Linked DNA regions of Homo sapiens: region 2 is linked to region 1. A link means that fine-mapping ties the variant in region 1 to the expression of a gene that starts in the linked region. Tissue or cell type: whole blood. Region 1 holds a variant in brackets; the other region holds the start of a gene. All regions are shown on one strand. Distances are between the middles of the regions.

Region 1 (2,683 bases):
CTGATTAGAGAAATGAAAATCAAAACCACAATGAGATACCGTCTCACGCCATTCACAATGGCAATTATTACAAAGTTAAGAAACAGACCAGGCGCAGTGGCTTACGCCTGTAATCCTAGCACTTTGGGAGGCCAAGGTGGGTGAATCACGAGGTCAGGAGTTTGAAACCAGCCTGGCCAGCATGGTGAAACCTTGTTTCTACTAAACAAAAAATTAGCTGGGCATGGTGGTGCACACCTGTAGTCCCAGCTACTCGGGAGGCTGACGCAGGAGAACTGCTTGAAATTGGCAGGCAGAGGTTAAAGTGAGTCATGTTAGTGCCACTGCACTCCAGCCTAGGCAACAGAGCGAGACTCCATCTCAAAAAAAAGAAAAGAAAAAGAAAAAAAGAAAGAAACAATAGATGCTGGCGAGGTTGAGGAAAGACAGGAATGCTTTTACGCTATTGGTGAAAATGTAAATTAGTTCAACCATTGTGGAAGATGGGGTGGCAATTCCTCAAAGAGCAAGAACCAGAAATACCATTTGACCCAGCAATCCCATTACAGGGTATATGCTCAAAGGAATATAAATCATTATATTACAAAGACACACGCACATGTATGTTCACTGCAGCACTATTCACAATAGCAAAGACAAGGAATCAACCCAAACCAAATACCACATGCTCTCACTTGTAAGTGAACAATGAGAACACATGGACACAGGGAGGGAAACAACACACTCTGGGGCCTTTCACAGGGTGGGGTGGGGGGAAGGGGAGCATTAGGAAAGATGGCTAATGCATGCTGGGCTTAATACCAAGGTGATGGGTTGACAGGTGCAGCAAACCACCATAGCACATATTTACCTATGTAACAAAGCTGCATATCCTACATATGTATCCTGGAGCTTAAAAATTAAAATGAAATAAATAAATAAAAGTCCTTCAATCCCTAATATAAAAAATTTGATATCTGTTAACATCACCTTTTAAAATCCTAACCAGGAATTCCATTTTTTATAACACTGATTAAATTACATAATGTTACTCTTAGAGAAACACCTTAGAAGAAAAATAGCAGACCCATTTGAGATAAAAGACATGTTCTCCTGTTGTCTTTAAATTATAGCAATGTACTTAGTAACAGAAAAGAAATCCATTTCCTAAATTTAGACGCTGCTTCTCCCAACTTCTCACAACCATGAGAACACCAAAGAAAGGCATGAGAAACTAACAAACTATAATGAGCGTGTACATTATTATTTGAGGGGAATGGGATGGAGATCATTTAGAAATGCTTTTGGCTTTTCGCAGCTCTAAGTGTAAAAATTCAGTTCCTAGAAAACTGTCAGTTGCTAATAAAGAATCTCAGAACTCTAACAAGTGATACTACCGTGTCATAAAAAATAAA[T/C]CACAAGATACACTTTTTGGTGACAAAATCTTTTGAGTTTCTTAACATTATGGGGTAAAATGGTTGTGAGTTTATCAGGTCTTTTTGGCCCTATAAATCATAGTACATGTTATAAGTCATCCTCTTAATACTAATGTATCAATTTTTATCACAATTCATTTGGTAAACAGGATAATTCTGCAAAGTATTGAAAATTGCAAAGTTCTGAGCCAGCAACAAATTAGATTTCCACCCACATGGTGGTTAATCAGTCCCATGTACAGAGAGAAAGGAAACTGGATATAATGATTCTAAAAGCATTTTAAAGAATGTATTAGTGAACAACGAATCCTCAATGCCTGACACCTCGATGGTTTCCTGAAAGCACCAGTGAACCATGTAGCGTATATCCCAGTTAGCATGTTCAGCAATCAGGGGTTGTTACAGAGCTTACCAGTATAACAGCATGTATACAAGCCACACACAACAACTCACAGAAGCTCACAAGCCTCCCCACACCTTTGACTCTAATCCTCCTCCTGCAAAAATAGAAGAAAAAATATGACAACAGACATGTGAACACAAAACTGAAACTGAACAGAAAAGGGAAGATATTAGCTTAGATATGAGACATAAGAAAAAGTATGCTCCAGAATCTTTTTAAATCAAGAGGCATTGTGGGAGGCCCCCAAGATTCCCACTCCCTGATGTACCCGCCCTGTATAATCCTCCCCCATCCAGTGTGGATGGGACCGTGAACAGGACAAAGACAAGTCCTGTGACGAAGTTACATTTAATCAGAAATATGAATGGATTCTGCAGATTTAATTAAGTTCCCCCATCAGTTGGTTCTGAGTTTATCAAGAGGGAAATTATCGTGGATGGGCTTGACTTCAAAGGTGAGTTCTTAGAAAAACCAGCCCCTTCCTAACAAGATCTGAAGTGTGAGAGATTCTCCTGCTGGCTCTGAAGAAATAAAATTTCATGTTGTAAAAGGGCCTATGGAGGGGGCCACATGGCAAGGACCTCAGAGCAGCCTCTGGAAGTAAAGTGTGGTCACCATCCAATCGCTAACAAGAAACAGGATCCTCAGTCATACTGCCACAAGGAAATGCCATCTGCCAACCGCCCTGTGCATTTGGAAGAGGACCCTAGCCTCAGATGAGATCACAGTCCCTGCAACACCTTGACTGTCACTGTGTGAAACAGTGAATGGAGAACTCAGCCACGCGGTCCTCAGACTGCTGCTGTAGAGACCCATGAGATCATCAATATATGTCACCTTAAACCACTAAAGTTGTGGTAATTCA
Region 2 (2,683 bases), 200 kb before region 1:
CCCACCCCACCCCACTTCCATAAAACACAACTCAGATTTAATGTTCTGGAGCAAATGTTTTTCAACAGACTTGACCTGCTTAATCTTCCTGACAATGTGCGCAGTTATGTTAGTAATTTGCATACTCTTGGGAAGGGATATGAGACACTAGCAAACCAAAACGCCCAGAGGGCAGCTATATGTTACAGTGGTAATCTTTTTCTTTTTTTCTCAATGTGTGTATGTCTGCTTAATGTTACCACGTACTATCGTAACACACTACTACTATGGTCTGATCTTTAAGAGCAAAAGTTAGAAGCTTTGTTAACTATTATTTCTCCTTTAACTCTGTCTCTTACGAATACACAATGGCTTCTTGAAAATTATCTTAAAAAGACTCTGATTAAAACAAAAACCCAATGACAACAACAAAGCAACCCCTTTATCAAAGGCTGCAGCATTTCTAGAAGTACCCTTCAACTCACTAGCTGGGAAGGAGAGTGCACTTTTTTTTTTTTTTGAGACGGAGTTTCGCTCTGTCACCCAGGCTGGAATTCAGTGACAATTCAGTGACAAGTCTCTGCTCATTGCAGCCTCCGCCTCCGGGGTTCAAGCAGCTCTCCTGTCCCAGCCTCCCGTAGCTGGTATTACAGGTGTGCACCACCACACCTGGCTAATTTTTTTATTTTTCATTTTTAGTACAGACGGGGTTTTACCATGTTGGCCAGGCTGGTCTCGAATTCCTGACCTCAGGTGATCCGCCCGCCTTGGCCTGCCAAACTGCTGGGATTACAGGCGTGAGCCACCACTCCTGGCCGAGGGTGCACCTTTGAGACTAGGTTTCTGCAGCACACATTCATTTTAGTAATCAAGGACATATTGCTGGATTTAGGACGTGAAGAACAAGTCAGGAGCAGATGCTCCAGGCTGCTCGAGGAGGAAGGGGACCACGCCTAATGAAATAACCAAGGATGTCCCAGTCAGGAAGAAATGTGTTAAGTTTTAAACCTGTGTCTTCGCTTTTGGAAGGAACCTGGAAAACGGACGCGGGTTTGCTTCTAATCTGCAGTCCTGCTTGCAGCCTGAGGAGGACGTAAAAAGCCTTGGGGCCAGACAGCCCCAAAACGGGGGCGTTTTACCCTCTTAACTTTCTCTCCCCTTCTTGACGCAGAGGGCGTATCTTCACGCCTCCTTTCCCCAGCCCGCGTTCCCGTTCTCCAACAACAACCTGCGTGTCTCCTTTAAGAGGCGGGGGCCGTCCCTCCCTTTCTCCTCCCAGTCTCCCGCCCTTCACACCTTGGGTGGGAAAAGAGTGTGGGGGCGGGGTAGCCGGTGAAGCGGGAGGGGCGGGATCACAGCGAGCGCTCCAATGGCCCTCGAGGCTGGCCACGGTGGACTCCGGCAGCCAATGAGCAGCAGGCGGGGAGGCGTGGCGGGGCGCTGTTGCAAAGCATCCAACGTGGGCCAGCAGGCGGCCGCGGAGCGCGGAGCCTAGGGGGTGTGTGCGGGCGAGCGGCCGGGGGCGGGGCTTGGGGGACCGGCCGGGGCTGGGCCGCGGGGAGGCGAACAGCAAGCGGCTGATTGTTCGGCTGCGAGGTCGGCGGGACTCTTGCTGCGCGGAGGAGCCGTGCGGAACCCGAGGCTGCGCGCGCGCGCGCGCTCTCTGGCCGCGGCGTGGGGACAGCGAGGCGCACTGGGGCCTCCCAGCGCGGGGCCGGCCGCGCCGTCCAGCCCGAGGTCTACGGCTTTGCGCTCCGAGCCCAGAGGAAGATGCCTGCCGGCACCGAGCTCGGGCTGCGGGGCTGAACGCCTGTCTTCCAGGCGCAGCGGCAGCACTGCCCTCGGCCGGTGTCGGTAGCGGCACTCGGCGTGCCCCGGGCGGACGAAGAGCGCAGGCTGGGTACACCTTGCCCGAATCGGCGGAGTTCGCAGCTAGCGCGGGCGGGCCGGCCGGCCCGGATGGGCGCGGGGTTTGCGGCCCCCGCCGGGTGCTCCGGAGCGGCCCGGGCACCGGGGGCACGCTGAGTGCCGGAGCCGCGGCCGCAGAGAGAACTTGGGGCGGGGGCCATGCCCCGGTGCGGAGTCTAGAGCCGAGCGGAGCGCCCCGCGGGCCCGCCCGCGTCTGCGGCCGTTCGGGTCCTCACAGTCCCCGCGCCCGGAGTTCGCAGCGCGCTCCAGACAAGATGGCGCGGCCGGTCCGGGGAGGGCTCGGGGCCCCGCGCCGCTCGCCTTGCCTTCTCCTTCTCTGGCTGCTTTTGCTTCGGCTGGAGCCGGTGACCGCCGCGGCCGGCCCGCGGGCGCCCTGCGCGGCCGCCTGCACTTGCGCTGGGGACTCGCTGGACTGCGGTGGGCGCGGGCTGGCTGCGTTGCCCGGGGACCTGCCCTCCTGGACGCGGAGCCTGTGAGTGCCGCCCTTTCCGCCCTCTCTGCGCCCCGGGGCTCTGTCACTTGGGGATGGAGCGGCGGGGGTTCGTACTCAGGGAGGGGGTGCGGACTGGGTTGTGTGTGTGGAGTTGTGCGTGCTTGTGCGTGTTGGAAGACTGTCAGGTTGGAGTGGCGGAAGGGAGATTCTGCGTGGAGGTCCGGGGGAGTAGGCGTGCGAGAGAGCCTGGAGAAGAAGAGCGTGCCTCGTGGGGTCTGGAGACGAGCGAGCGTGGGTCGTAGAGATTTGGGGGTTAGCCAGCACGCGTCGTGCGGGCCATCT

Evidence for each region. PIP is the estimated chance that this variant, and not a neighbour inherited with it, causes the effect.
Region 2: it holds the start of LRIG1, and the variant in region 1 is fine-mapped to the expression of LRIG1 in whole blood (INTERVAL, PIP 0.95).

The regions. Positions count from the first base shown.
Region 1 is chr3:66,303,682-66,306,364 of GRCh38, reverse strand. The region is part of intron 5 of SLC25A26 (solute carrier family 25 member 26); the gene reads right to left. Among named protein-coding and RNA genes, the nearest start is that of SLC25A26, 84 kb to the right of the region's middle. The variant T/C (reference allele first, on the strand shown) is at 1,395.
Region 2 is chr3:66,499,887-66,502,569 of GRCh38, reverse strand. It overlaps LRIG1 (leucine rich repeats and immunoglobulin like domains 1), which reads left to right and starts at 1,548. Exons shown (of 19, transcript NM_015541.3): 1 at 1,548-2,380. The coding sequence starts at 2,163. RefSeq lists silencers at 1,179-1,838, 1,859-1,998, 2,039-2,118, 2,139-2,348 and enhancers at 1,451-1,951, 1,952-2,452.